Homo sapiens: one gene and its partner. The protein of the gene in region 1 interacts with the protein of each later gene in a pairwise test. Each region holds a gene or a part of one and is shown in the gene's direction. Other genes may lie near its edges. The genes, in order: OTOP3 and ZFYVE27.

What was found.
Region 2: the proteins of OTOP3 (region 1) and ZFYVE27 interact in binary tests that used the Homo sapiens proteins (3 or more experiments, as listed by UniProt).

The regions. Positions count from the first base shown.
Region 1 is NC_000017.11:74,931,453-74,939,067, forward strand, and holds the start of OTOP3 (proton channel OTOP3), read left to right. Parts: upstream 1-4,455; 5' UTR 4,456-4,469; coding exon 4,470-4,488; intron 4,489-7,615. Other genes in the region: proton channel OTOP2, read left to right, coding at 1,923-2,093. UniProt on the Homo sapiens protein: Proton-selective channel gated by extracellular protons.
Region 2 is NC_000010.11:97,753,885-97,761,146, forward strand, and holds the end of ZFYVE27 (protrudin), read left to right. Parts: intron 1-842; coding exon of another isoform or gene 843-868; exon of another isoform or gene 869-3,380; coding exon 3,381-3,427; intron 3,428-3,757; coding exon 3,758-3,839; intron 3,840-3,983; coding exon of another isoform or gene 3,984-3,994; exon of another isoform or gene 3,995-4,297; intron 4,298-5,351; coding exon 5,352-5,416; 3' UTR 5,417-7,011; downstream 7,012-7,262. UniProt on the Homo sapiens protein: Key regulator of RAB11-dependent vesicular trafficking during neurite extension through polarized membrane transport. Promotes axonal elongation and contributes to the establishment of neuronal cell polarity.

The DNA.
Region 1 (7,615 bases):
TGATGTGGAAGGCGGGGTCCTCACCCCCCAGTGGGAGGTGTGACTGCTCCTGGGAACTTGTGATCTGCCTGCTTCTCAGAATAATTGGAACAGTGTCAGGAAGTAGCGGAGACCAGTGTTAAGTGTGAGCGGTCTGTTAGCAGAGTGAACTGGGAAGGAGGGCATCTACAACAGCCACCCCCTCCCTAGTGACTCAGCAAAGATTAAGAACAACAGACTTGGCCGGGTGCAGTGGCTCACGCCTGTAATCCCAGCACTTTGGGAGGCCGAGGCAGGCAGATCACAAGGTCAGGAGTTCGAGACCAGCCTGGCCAACAGGGTGAAACCCTGTCTCCACTAAAAATACAAAAATTAGCCAGGCGTGGTAGTGTGCGCACCCTATAATCTCAGCTACTTGGGAGGTTGAGGCAAGGGAATTGTTTGAACCCAGGAGGCGGAGGTTGCAGTGAGCTGAGATTGCACCATTGCACTCCAGCCTGTGCAACAGAGTGACACTCTGTCAAAAAAAAAAAAAAAAAAAAAGCAATAGACTTCACCCAATACAAATATATTCTCTGTATAGAAGTACCCCAGGGCAGAAACACTGGTAATGAAAGTGCATACCAATAGGAAAACACTCCTGGTGTTTCTAGTACAACCCAAGACAGAAATGGCCCAGTGGGGGCTTATTATTACCTCTGATATAGAAACATGTACCTATGTGGGTACATCTCAAAGAGAAAAAAACAATTCTAATGAAGTTTCACTCAATAGAAAAACAATCCTTCCAGCTAGAACCTCCAATAGAAAAATATCCCTAATATAGAAAATTACTTAATGTGGGTATATCCCAGGACAGAGCAAGAGCCCCAGAGTGAATTCTACCCCATGAAATCCTACCTGCATGAGGTACACCAGTGGCCCTAACTAAGAGTCATTCTTAGTGAGGTCCCACTGTGAAGGGCCATCCACCAGGTCATGGTCCCCATAGATGTGGGATGATGCCACGCAGGAGCCTTCCAACACAATCAATTTCACTTAAAAAAAATGTGGTCATCAATCTCTGACCCTACCAGCAGAATCATTAAGGTCCAGACCTCAGCATGTCTTGGAACGTCTTTGGTACCTGGCCCCCTGCCCTCTGGCCCCACCTCCACCTTCCACCCAGGCCTGGCTTATAGGCTAGGGGCCACCTTCTGGGAGGCTATTCTTGCTCCAGGCATCTGAGCCTAAATCACCTCCAGTAGCATCTTCTCCATCTCCTTCATTTTATAGGACAGAACAGGCTTAGAGGGGACTGCAATGTGCCCAAGGATGAAGTTAATCAGGGGTAGGGGTGGAGCTAGCCTAGAAACCTTTGTTCTTTGCTTCTTACCCACACCTGAATCTTCTGAGCTCCTAGCCAGAGAGGAAGCAGGATTCCAACTTCCACTTCCTCCCACTCCTGGAAAGGGAGAAGGGGATGAGGGGAGAGCTGGAGGGCAGAGCTCAAGGAGGGCTGGGGTGGGGTGGCCTTCTGTCTGAACCCCAAACCCCTGCCTTGAGCCTATCTGATTCTGCCACCCCCACCCCTGTGCACAAAACCCCCCAGGACAGAGCTGCTGATTTCACTGTTTGTACCTCTTCTTCTAGAGAAACCTCTTCTCCCCTCCCCAATCCCACATTGAGGCCCTGCTAAGATTTTGGGAGAGGTGATCACAGGTGTCCATGAGGTGGGCTAGCCTAGGGATGGCGAATTCAGTTGGGCTCACTTCCTGAGCCCCTTAGAGTGTGCTAGGTCCTGTCCAAAATGCTAGAGCTGCCCATTCACTGACACCCAGCCCTCCGTGTCCACCAAGCTAGAAGGATGGGCCGCCATCTAGCCACGGCCCAGCAAAACCCACAGAAATGACCCACAGGCATCCATCCAGGCCAGCTCCTGAAATGCTCCTCTCTCCACACAGCTGTGGATCATGCCTGCCTTCGGGGCCCGCCCTCATTTCAGCAACACAGTGGAGGTGGATTTCTACGGCTACTCCCTCTGGGCGGTCATCGTCAACATCTGCCTCCCTTTCGGCATCTTCTACCGCATGCACGCTGTGTCCAGCCTGCTGGAGGTCTACGTGCTGTCCTGAGGCCTCCAACAGAGGCATGGGGGGCAGGAAGAGGGGGCTCAGCTCATGTGCCCACTCAGACACCCTCTGGGAATGAATCCCAGCTGGTGCCATATGACAGCCCATTTCCTTCTGGTCCCAGAGTGGAATTTTCACAAAAGTTATTTTTCCAGGTTCAATTTTTAAATCACAGTCAGGACAGGCCCATCCACCCCAGTATGACCGTGGGGCATGAGGTGACTGGGGAAGGGAGACCTCTCCTGGCAGCATTTCTAGGACCCAACAAGATCTGGAGGTGCCGGCTCTGGTTCCATCTCTAATCCCCTGCTGTGGCCTGGCCAGTGTACTGCCCGGAGCTGGAAACCAATAAACCTGTGATTTGCCCCCATCCCCACTGTTTGTCTCTGTTGTCCCGTCTGAGGTGGTCACAGGAGAGGATCTTGGGAGTCAGAGCGGGAAGGGCCCCTGGAGATTTTCAGGTCTCAAGTTTTGCAGTGTGTGAGCAAAATCCAAATGACAGACTAGCTACAGGGTGGGTAACTGGAGTTCCCAAACTGCCATCTTCCTCTTCCCTTTATCTCCAGGTGGCATATACATATAATCTTTTTTTTTTTTTTTTTTTGAGAGAGTGTCTCACCTTTTTGCCCAGGCTGGAGTGCAGATAGATCACTGCAACCTTAACCTCCTGGACTCAAGAGACCCCCCCACTTCAGCCTCCTGAGTAGCTGGAACTACAGCTACTACTGCCACCACGCCTGGCTAAATTGTGTGTGTGTGTGTGTGTGTGTGTGTGTGTGTGGAGATGAGGGTCTCATTGTGTTGCCCAGTCTGGTCTTGAACTCCTGGGCTCAAGTGATCCTCCCCCCTCAGCCTCCCAAAGTGCTGGGATTACAGGCATGAGCCACAGCACTCAACCTAATCATTTTCTTTGTGTGTGTCCCATGACAGAAGAAAGTTTAGGAAGCAGTGACCTAGTCTAATGTCTGCATTTTACAAAGAAGGAAGCTGAGGCCCAGAGAGGTAAAGTGACTTGCCCAAGGTCACACACCTGCAAAAAATCCAGAGCCTTTCTGCTAAGAACAATAATTTTCAAACTTTGTTTTCAAGCAGAACATTTTTCCCTTCAAATAAAATATTACAGGAACACAAGTTTATAACATAGATATAGGCTGTGTGCAGTGCCTCACGCTTGTAATCCCAGCACTTTGGGAGGCCGAGGCAGGCAGATCACTTGAGGTCAGGAGTTCGAGACCAGCCTGGCCAACATGGCGAAACTCTGTTTCTACTAAAAAATACAAAAAGTAGCCGGGCATGGTGGCGTGCGCCTGTAATCCCAGCTACTCAGGAGGCTGAGGCAGGAGAATCACTTGAACCCAGGAGGCAAAGGTTGCAGTGAGCCGAGATCATGCCACTGCACTCCAGCCTGTCTAAAACAAAAACAAAAACAAACAAACAAAAAAGATATAAACAAGGCAGTTCTAATTTAAAAGGAGTTGGGAGTCTCAGATCCTCACCACTTGACTTCCCCCTGCCCCAGGAGGTCCCCGAGGAGTTTCCCCTAAGCCCTAGGGTTTCTACTCTACAAAGGGTATAGAGATGCTTAGGAGGGAAGACAGCAGAGAGATGGGAAGGAGGCTCCACAGTTAGAAGAGTGAAAGGTGGTGGTGAGCATGCAGAGGCAGAGGGAGGGGAAGGGCTGGGAGAGGGAGGGCTGGGCGGGACCCATGGAGCAGATGGCATTTGGGGGAGATCATGGGAACAGCAGCACTGGGAGCTCAGGGGACTTTGAGGAAAGTGTGCCTGGACCCTGTCAGCAGAAGGAGGTGAGTAGTTCTCAGAGGCCGCAGGTGGAGCTGAGGAGGCCTCCTCCCCTGTCAGAATGGGGCTGTGCTCCAACTCTCCCCACCAAGTTCAGGTTTGACTTAAGGGAAACACAGGGTCCTGCTAGGCGGCCTCCAGGCCTGGGGCTAGGTAGGGTACAGGAAAAAGCGACTCCAGGCCTGGAGGGAGGGCGTCCATTCCCAGCTTGATCACCAAAGGAAAACGAGGCCTGAATTCCGCAAGCTCTTTACTGCGGACCTAAGAACACTGCACCCCTCTCCACCCCATCCGAGGGCGGGCTGCGAGTTGGAGACCCTGCAGGCCCGCGCCTGCACAGCCCTCAGCCCCGCCCGCTTGTCCAGCTGCCTCGCAATTGGCTGCACCCTCTGGGTCCGAGCCCCCGGGAGGGTAATTAACGAGGGATTAATGAGATTTCCAAAGTCAACAGAAAAATCGATGGGCCGCGGAGCCCGAGCGGCGGCTGCGCAGTCCCGCTGGGGGAGGGCGTCGCGGGCATCGGTCTCACCTGGACGGACGATCCGCTCAGCGCCCGCAGTCGGTGGTTAGCCCACGGCGATGCCTCTCCCGGCCTCAGGTAAGCCCGGAGCGCCGGCGGAACTTTCCCAGCTTGCGCACCCCAGACACTGGCACATACTACCCACCCCCCCAAAAGGGGGGTTCACAAGTAGGGGCTGCAGGGATTGGAACGGGAAAGCGGGGTGACTGTGGAGAGGTGAACTCCCTTTAATCTGAGGCCGGCCCCTCCACCCGCCCCGCAACCCGCGCTCCGCGCCCCTACTCCTTTCCGTGGACCCGGGGAGCACAGAGGGCCTCAGGGCGCGACTCCTCCCGGCCGGGTCCACACAGCAGAAAGCGCGGAGGCCTGGGGTGTGAGGTTGGTTGGGGCTGTCTGGACGCCCGGTCTGGGGCACGCAGGAAGCGGCTGCCCCGGCCCCGCAGTCCCTAAAATGGCTCGGAAGGAAATCCCGAGGGCGCCCGCACTCAGCAGCCTCCTCGGAGCCGGCCCTGCGCTGCTGGGCCGGGCGCCGGGCCCGACGGCTCCGCGGCTTTCATCGCCAATCCAGCCGAGACCCACAAACCAGTCCAGTGTCCCGGCCCTCCCTTGGACTGGCGTCGCGCCCAGGGGCGTGCCAGGGGGCGGCAGAGTACTGCTTGTCAGTTCCAGGTGCCCTTGCCCCAGCCTTCTGCCCGAGACCCCTAAATGCCCACTCCTGCCCCCTGCCCAGCCCGGGACCAAATTCGCTCCTTTGAAGGCTCACGCCAGCGGCCTTTGGAGGGCTGGACTTCAGGGTGGGAGACGGGGGATACTGTCAGGGCAAAGACCCCAGAGGAAGGGAACCTGGAACCTTGTCCCCCAGTGTCCCCTCCAGGCCTCCAGTCTGAATAAAATTCACCCTTGAAATTTCACCAGTAATCCCGACCCTTCCCAGCTCTCCAGGACCTCAAAAGAACTGGAAGGAAATGCAGAGATAGCCAACACTGAGTTTTCCAGGTGCCAGGCATTGCCGGCATTACTCTCTGCCCGTGCTTCGTGCATGTATTAAATCATGTCATTCTGACAAAGCCCCTATTCGGCATTCATCACCCCCCCACCCTTTTTTTTTTTTTTTTTTTGAGACAGGGTCTAACTCTGTCCCTCAGGCTGGAGTTCACTGTGGCGATCACAGCTCACTGCAGCCTCAGCCTCCCAGGCTGAAGCAATCCTCCCACATCAGCCTCCCGAGTAGCTGGGACTACAGGTGCATGCCACTACACCTGGCTAATTGTTTGGTATTTTTTGTAGAGACAGGGTTTTGCCATGTTCCCCAGGCTGGTCTCCAACTCCTGGGCTCAAGGGATCCGCTCACCTCAGCCTCCCAAAGTGCTGGAATTACAGGCGTGAGCCACTGCAGCCAGCCTCGTTCCGGAAGTCTTTATTGAGCATCTACTATGCACCAGCTACTATTCCATAGTTGTATATCAGTTTTGCAGATGACAACACTCAGGCACAGAGTCTAAGTAGCTCTCTGTAGTAGTCTCAGTAGTCTAAGATGACAGAGGTAATAAGTGCTGGAATCTGAGCACTTGATCATTAATCTACCCTGCTTGGGGGCTGGAGGAGAGGGTGCAGGTTTTGGGGAAGGTGAAGTAGAGCAGTTACAGTTGGGATATATGGAGCAGGGAGACATCCCGGTGAGCCCCAGCCTTGCTCAATTTGGGTGGGGGAGCTTAGGAGGGAAAGATAAAGATCATCGGGAGTCTCCTCCCCAGCCAGCCCGGAAAGAGTTTAATGGGAAGGGTCTCTGTCCACAGCTCTGGTGCTGAAAATTTCCCAAAAGATGCCAGAGTCAGTGGGCAATCACTGGGTGAATGTCACATCTGCACTAGGTTTGGGGGGTCCAAGTTAAGCAGGACCCGGTCTCTGTCCTGGAGGAGTTTCAGGACTTAATGGGAGCCAGCCACACCCACAGCACACCAAACAGGGCACACCTCTCAATAGAGGGGAGTGGCCCCAGCAAAGTAGCACCAGAAGGCTTAGGCAGAGAGGAAGGCTTTCCAGGTGGGTGGGGAGGATGGGCGAGTGGTGGGGGAGGCAGAAAGAAGAGCAGTGTCCAGGAGGGATGGCAGGAGGCAGGAGACCATGGGAGAAACGCAGAACTTTCTACCTGGGCCTGGGTTGGTGTGGGAGGCAGGTGCCTTGAGTACGGCAGGGGTGGTGGGACAGGGAGGAGACAGAACTTAGGCAAGGATGACAGAGTGGAGTGGGAAAGGGGAGAAAATCATTTATAGAATCTTGAAAAGAGGCTTAAGTTTTAGTGCTCCATCTGCCCCAGAAGAGAACAGCAGAAGGTATAAATATGGAGCAGGTGGAGAATGGGAGAATATGACAAGGGGAGAATGGGAGCCCGGAGAGGTTGCATTTTCAAGCCAGATATGGTGAGAGTCTTCTGGTGTTGCATAGAGGGCACGTCTGAAGCTCCTGAAGCCTGGGGTCTCAAGGGAGAGACAGAGCAAAGCACAGCTAATGGAAGCAGAGGACGATGGGTGGTCAGCGTGGGGTGAGGTGGGAATGCTGACGAGGGAAGGCCGCAGAGAGGAGGCAGGGTCTCTGCCGAGTCCTGAAGGACAAGCTAGAGTTACCCAAGGGGCAAAAGGGGTAGGCATTAAAGGCAAAGAATAGGGTGTGGGCAAAGACTGGGGGCGTTCCAGGAAGTGCAGCAAGATGGTATAGCCCAAGGAGAGGGGAGTAGGGTCAAAGACAATGCTAGAGGGGTAAGTTGAAGCCAGACCAGGAAGCAGCAGCAGCTACTCTGCCTTGGGCAGAGAACCTGGAACCTTGTCCAGGCCCATACTAATCATACACCTCTCATTTTGAGAGGCCATGCAGGCTGTGTCAGTAATTTGGACTTTATACTGAGGGCAATTAGTTGCCTTTGCAGGACTTTAAGTAGGGGAGAGGCACTCTGGGCAAGAAGACCAGTCCAAGAGAGCAAGGAAGGGGGCCCAGACTAGGTAGTGGTTGAGGTCAAGAAAAATCAGGGCCAGGCATGGTGGCTTACACCTGTAATCCCAGCACTTTGGGAACCTGAGACAGGAGGATCACTCGAGGCGAGGAGTTCAAGACCAGCTTAGGCAACATAACGTGACCCTGTCTCTGCAAAAAAAAAAAAAATTAAAATTAGCCAAGGGTGGTGGCACATGCCTGTAGTCCCAACTACTCA
Region 2 (7,262 bases), on another chromosome or scaffold:
TTTACTGAGGGTCGGGGGAGAGCGGTCAAGGAAGGCAGCTTTGGAGAAGGGTGGACTTGACAGCACAGCTTAGAGACCTGGCTCAGATCAGCAGCGCTGAGAGCTGAGCCACATACAATTATGGTGGAAACCTAGAGTAGCTAGGTTGACCTGGGAGCTGCTGTGCTCCTGAGGAAGGGCCCTCCTGCCTGCTGTCAGATGGGAGCAGGGTAAGGGGGCAGTACTGTGTGTTCTGGTGTTGAGTGAGTTCTAGGGTCTGTGCCCTGGAAGAAGACAATGGAGTTTATCTTGAGGAATTTGACTCAGGGCCCCCAGGGTCCTGCCTTCCTACCCCTGCAGCAGCCAGGGCAGTTGTTTTCTCAGGATTAGATGTCCTGGACAGGCTCTTTCTTTCTGCTGTGTGAATGTCCCCCAGTTATTCAAGATCCCTTTTTTTTTTTTTTTTTGAGACAAGGTCTCACTGTGTCTCCCAGGCTGGAGTGCAGTGGCATGATCACAGCTCACTGCATCCTCGACTTCCTGGGCTCAAGTGATCCTCACAGCTCAGCCTCCCGAGTAGCTGGGACTACAGGCATGTAGCACCATGCCTGGCTAATTTTTGAATTTTTTTTGTAGAGACAGGGTCTTACTTTGTTCCTCAGGCTGGTCTTGAACTCTTGGGTTTAAGTGATTCTTGTACCTTGGTCTTCCAAAGTGTTAGGATTACAAGTGTGAGCCACCACGCCCGGCCCCTTTGTTTTATTTATGCTGCCTGCTGACTTCTGCAGGGCATTCTGTATGTTCAGTGATCTGTTTACCCTCCATACTTGCACATGTGTGATCTCATTTCATCCTTACCGTAGGTGTGACAGGAGCAGGCAGTTCTTAAGGGTTCAGAGCAGCCAGATTCCAGCAGTGCCCGGTAACACTACACACAAGAAGTATTACTCTGGTCCAGCAAATAATTTGTCTATTTCTACAACTTCTAAGTAAAGGTACTTAGCTGTTCCCATTTTACAGATGAATAACCTGAGGTAAAAAGAGTGCTTTGCCCAGAGACTTTGGCCTGGAAATGGTGGAGCTGTGACTCAAATTCAGGTTGTCTGATTCGGCTCTTGTCTTCTTTCTACCTCTTCATCCTCCCTCTCTGTTTTCCCTTTGCCCTTGCGTGTGAAGTCCCTTGTTTTATGCCTGTCCCGCTTTTGTATTTGATTTTTGGTTTGGATAATCTCTACCAGCATGGGCAGAGGCCTTTTCAGCCTCCCTCAAGGATGGCAAGGGCAGAAAGTGCTTCTTTTCCTAAACTCCTCTTAGTTCCTCATCCTTCAAGACCACTTGCTACTTTCCCTTTTCTGAGATGTTCCCAAGCTCTTTGCCATGAGGGCAGGTGTAGCAGCTCTGCTCCTGCGGCCTCTGCTCCTGAACCTGGGTCCTGAGAGCAGGGCGAGGGGAGCTGCTTTGGGGGCTTTCTCCATTTCAGCGACTATAACGAAATACACTAAGCTGGGGGGCTTTTAAATAATGGAAATCTCTCATCACAGTTCTGGAGGCTGGAAGTCCAAGATCAGGGTGTCAGCAGGATCAGGTTCTGGTGAGGTCCATTTCCGTCGTCATAGACAGCACCTTCTCACTGTGTCCTCATGAGAAGGTGGGAGGGGCACGGCAGTTCTCTGGGGCCTCTTTTATAAGGGCACTAATCCCATTCACGAGGGCTCCACCCTCATGACCCGGTCACCTCCCAGGGGCCCTGCTTTGGGTGTTAGGATTCCACATGTGAATGTTAGGGGACTGTGGTGGGGGCTATTCTATTTACCCCTGCCAGTGGATGAGGGGGTGCATGGGGAGAATGAGGGCAGACTGCAAAGGAGCTTCTCTGTGGCCTCCGTATGGGAGAGGTCTTGGTGGGGAGGGCCCCCCTTTGTCCTGGAGGCTCCATGACTGTTGCCCTGGCAGGCCCCACTGGGCCTTAGTGCCCCTGCTGTCATGGCCTCGGTGGCATCGTCACGTGGTGAGTGAGGATGGGTGAGTCCAGGCTGTTGCTGAGAAGGGGCAGAAAGAGTTGGTAGGTGTTGGAAGGGAACGTCACCTGGCTGAGCTGCTCTCAGCTCCCAGAGCCCTCCCTGGCTCCGGTCTGTGAGTGGGTTCACAGCTGTCTCCCCAGCCCACTTGGCTGCCCTGGGGTGCTTGGCCCTGACATTCCATTCAGTTTAGAGGAGACCTTGGGCTCAGGTCAGTGTCAGTCTTTGAGTAGCTCCTTTTGCCTGTCCCATTCCCCTTGTGTCCCTTGCTAAGGAGAGGCTGGGGCAGGCTGCCTTCCCCAAATTCTTGGTGTAGGGACAGAATCTTGGAGCAGCCAGTTTCCTGGTTTGGCACCAGCAGTAGGCTTGTTCTTCTCTTTCCCTGGCTGACTGACAGGGTGGGCATTTACCTGAAGCACCTTGGCCTCAGATTTCCCCTGGCTCTAGCAGAGGTCTTCCTTTCCCTGAACCTAGGGAGTCTCCTTTAGCAAGAACTTCAGGTGATTTTGGCTGGACAGAGGAAGGGACCACATGTAGCCGTCAATAAAGCTTTGGGGCCTTTCTGTGAAAGTGAGGCCTGGTGCTCTGTACTTGCCCAGACAGGTGGTCCGGCTGGGTCATAGCAGGCCTATGGGCCCCACATCCCAGAAACCTCATTCTCTGTCTCTCCTCTCCCCTTACACCCCCTTGTTGTCTTCTAGCCATTTTCTAAGCTGCCGTTGCCCCTCCACTGTTGCCGGGCACTTGGCCATCTTGGCATCTCTGGTGGTTTAGGCAGGACCTCTCCCTGCTCTGCGTCCCCCCATGCCACTCACTGCCCACCACAATTGAGCATTCTACCCTTCGTGTCTTTACAGTTGAGCATTCTACCCTTCATGTCTTCTTGGAATGTGCCTGGCTCTGAGTTTCTCTCCTGCAGTCTTCAGGGGACAGAAAGCAGGAGTTTAGGTTTTTAGGAGTTTCTGTCTTTAGCCTGTGGGTGGAGTATTTGTAAGGCATTGCTCCGGAAAGGGTCATGTTAGGCAGGTGTCATTTGGGGATGCCTGTGGTCAGGTCCCTGCCAGCTTAGCTGGCTTTCTTGGAGTGGATTCTGCTGGGTGCTCTTTGATTTCTGTTGAACCTGTAGGTAGGGCCACTCAGCTCTGGAAGGGTTCAGGGACTGGTAGCTATGTATGGCTGGAGACATCAGTCCTCAGGGGCTATCAGTCTTCTTAGTTTGAGTCCTTCTTTCTGTCTCTGAATCTGGCCTTGCTCCCTGGCTCACTGTGTCCAGCCAAGGAGGCTGGGCTGGTGTCCTGAGTGTCCCATTTAGAAGCGCCAGGAGCAGGTGAGCGTGAGAGTCCTGGGATGGGCGGGGGTTGAGCTGCTGCCTCTGTTTCTCAGGGAACTGCACGGGCTGCTCGGCCACCTTCTCAGTGCTGAAGAAGAGGGTGAGTGTCTGTGAGGGTGCATTTGTTGGGGACAGTGTCCTTGGGACTGTCGGGTGGGGAGGAGTTGAGGGGAGTCATTGAGAAAGTCTGGCTCGGGTCACATTGGGCCTGGCAGTGGCTTTCTGGAGTGAGTGTGCCCTCCCCTGCGCCTGTGCCACCTTTTACCAGCCTCCCCAGGGGGTATTCCATTTGCTCTCTTTCCTGCTCCACTTGGGCACCCCCCAGGCCCAGTTTCCTTGGGTGGGATCAGCTGGTGGAAAGGAGGGAGGTGCTGAGAACTCCAGGTACCTGAGGGTGAGGGACACATCTGACCTTGGCTCTTGTCTGCAGCGGAGCTGCAGTAATTGTGGAAACAGCTTCTGCTCTCGATGCTGCTCCTTCAAGGTGCCCAAGTCCTCCATGGGGGCCACAGGTGAGTGGTGCAGGTGGTGGGAGGGCTTGGTTGGTATCCCGCCCAGGGGATGTCACGCTGTGGCACAGAGGCAAGGGTGTCAGAGGTCAAGGGAACTTGGGATTGTAGTCAGGCCTACGGGAACGTTTCCTCCATCCCCTTTAGCAAAATCCTGAAACATTTGGTACATGCCGAAGAATAGATATGATGTACCTGTGAATTGTGAAGGGTAATAACAAGATGAATACCTGTGGCTGCTTCACTAAAGTTGAAAAACAAGAGCCCTGGCAACACCCCCGCAGCTCCCAGCACTGCTCCTGCCTTCCTGGAGTCAATCACCAGCCGCAATTTTAATCTTTTTCTTATTTCCTTGGCACTTTGAACAAAACTAAAAATTCCTTTTTTTCCTTTTATAAAATATAAAATATTTCCTATACATATTGTAAATAAAAAACACAGATAAGCAAAAGGAAAAAAAATTCCTGATTTCTTCCTGAGAGAACAATCGGGCATGGACCCTGCTGCTCATTAGCTTGCATGTAGAATAAAAGCACATGCATATTCCTGAAAAATGTGGTCACATTTCATGTACCGTTTTGTAGTATAATGTTAAACCAAGTTTTTTTTTTTTTTTTTTTGAGACGGAGTTTCACTCTTGTTGCCCAGGCTGGAGTGCAGTGGTACGGCCTTGGCTCACCACAACCTCTGCCTCCTGGGTTCAAGCAATTCTCCTGCCTCAGCCTCCCGAGTAGCTGGGATTACAGGCATGCGCCACCACACCCGGCTAATTTTGTATTTTAGTAGAGACGGGGTTTCTCCATGTTGGTCAGGCTGGTTTTGAACTCCTGACCTCAGGTGATCTGCCCGCCTCGGCCTCCCAAAGTGCTGGGATTACAGGCGTGAGCCACCGCCCCCAGCCCAAGTTCTTTTTTCTTCCGATGCAAGTAACATATGCTTACTAACTAGAAAATTTGGAAATTATTATACAGAGGACGAAGGAAGAGAAAAATAACCCTGTAATTTTACCACCCAGAGGTAACCACTGTTAAAACATTTTGGGAAATTTCACTGTGATATTTTACTTATTCTGTTTTTTTGAGACAGAGTCTCGCTCTGTCGCCCAGCCTGGAGTGCAGTGGCGCCATCTCGGCTCACTGCAACCTCCGCCTCTTGGGTTCAAACAATTCTTGTGCTTCAGCCTCCTGAGTAGCTGGGATTACAGGCGTGCATCACCATGCCTGGCTAATTTTTGTATTTAATATTTTATTTAAAAATTTTTGAAGGTGTTCTGTTGGTGCCACAATAATGTCTAATTCATAGCACAGGAGTGGCCTGCTGTTGGCATCATCACCCCCAGGATCCCCAGTTCCCATGGAAAGAAGAATCTCTGCGGGCAGGCTAGCAAGCTGGGCAGGGAGGGTGTGGGCTGGGTGGGGGGTCTGTGTGGGGCATTTGGGAGGGTGCTTCTAGTAGTTGGGGCCATGAACCAAAGGGCGCAAGGAAATGTCTCACCAAGTTCTTCCTCCTTTTCAGCCCCTGAAGCCCAGAGGGAGACTGTGTTTGTGTGTGCCTCGTGTAACCAGACCTTGAGCAAGTGAGAAGAGAGGCCAGGGTCCAACCAGGCACCCGTCCTTGGGACCAGCAGTAGACCCCCCACTCTCCCCACCCCTGGCCCACTGTGGTGTGTGCTGGGCAAATGTGGCCTGAATGCTAGGTAGGCTTCCCCTTCCTTCCTCACTCTCTCCAGCTGGATTCTGGAGCTGTTCTCCATCCATGAGAGTGGCTGGCAATGGCTGCTCTCAATCCCTTGAGGGAGAAGAGCCCCTGGAGGGCCTGGCATGTTTGTCCTGCTCTGCCTGGGACTGAGCGAGTGGACTTAGGGCTGGGCAGGCAGTAGCCACCAGAGGGCAGCAGCGAACTAGGCCAGGCCTGACTGGGGTCTGAAGATCAGGGTCAGTGTGGCTGTGCCTGGGAATTCCAGACCTGAGGTTGGGAAAAGAGGTTTTTCTCCTGCAGGGTACTGGGCCAGGCCCTCAGCCTCAGAGAGCCTGCAGAAGGGCTTGGGAGTGCCACACCCCATCTCTGCTGATTGAATGTCCCTCCAGGCACCAGGATCTCATCATTTCCCCATCAGAGGGTGTGGCCAGGCCTAACAAGACCATGGGTGCTTCTAGAAACAGGGTTGAAGTTCCCAGATTCCCTGAGAGGAGAATGTGTATAGGAGGGTTTGGCTGAGTCCTTCAGCGTTAAGTGGAGGAAAGCTTGGGGAAGCCCCAATAGCTGGACAGACCTCGGCCTCCCCTCGAAGACACCTCAATTCACAGACTCTCAGCCCACACAATGCCCCAGTGTCCCCAGCTCCGCTGGAGCAGCTGCAGGGCACTTGGATCACAACTTCTGCACCCTCTGTCCAGAGTCTAGGGCAGTCCTCCACTGGCCCAGCACTCCAGTTTCCTTTCCCTGCCTCTTGTCCAATGGAGTGGGAGGCCAGGTGAGTGGAGCAGAGGTCCTGAAGCCCTTGACCCCTGGGGGCCTGGGTAGTGTAGGATCTCGCTGGGCTGGGTCCTGGATTCCAGGGCTATTCCCTGGAGGACAGTCTCAGTTATGGGATAAGGCCCCCTGGGGGTCTCCATTTCTTTCCAACAGTTTCATGTTCACTACTGGACTCTTACGGGCTCAGTATCTCTCCCTTAGCCATGAGCTGGCTCAGGCATCCCTTCCCTTCCCTGGAGCTGCCCTGCCTTTCTCAAGTATTTATTTATTTATTGCATGGTTCCTGGGAACATGTGGCACAAGTAATGGGATGAGGAGGAATTGGGGGTGGGGGTCTTCTACCTAGGACTCTTCCCTGGAGTCATGGGCTGCCTGGGACCCAGGACCCATGAGGGGGCTGAGAGGTTTCTACACTCGAGGAGCAGGGGTCCAGAGAGGCAGGCTGGGGAGGCAAGGGACCCATCCTAGGCCCGCTTTCTTGCCGAGCCAAGCAGCTTAGCTGGGGCTGTGCAGCCAGGGGCTTACCCAGGCCAGTGGAGGTGCCACAGCCCTGGGGAGCCAGACAGGCTTTGGTATCGTATCGCCTCTGTGTCCTTTTAAGAGAGGAGAGTTCAGTACCCCGTGCTTTCTTTACACTGGAGAGGAACTAAAAGGATCTCTGTGTCTATGGAGAATTGTCAATAAAAAGGCCTCAAGCTTCTTGTTTTTGTCATGTCTTTGTGTTGGCATTTTCCCTGAGGCTGGAAGACCAGATCTCTCTGGCACTGCTGGAGTTTTGCAGGCCTGGGCAATTCCTGCAGGACCAGGCTGAGGGGCGGGCCTTTGGGGCACCATGGTGGCAGGGGCGTGGGGGCTGCAGCCTGGTCTGGGTATGAGCTGGGGGCCAAGAGGAGGAAAGCTGTGCCTTGCACGCAGGAGAGGCTCAGCAAATGCTTGTCGGATTGACTTGAG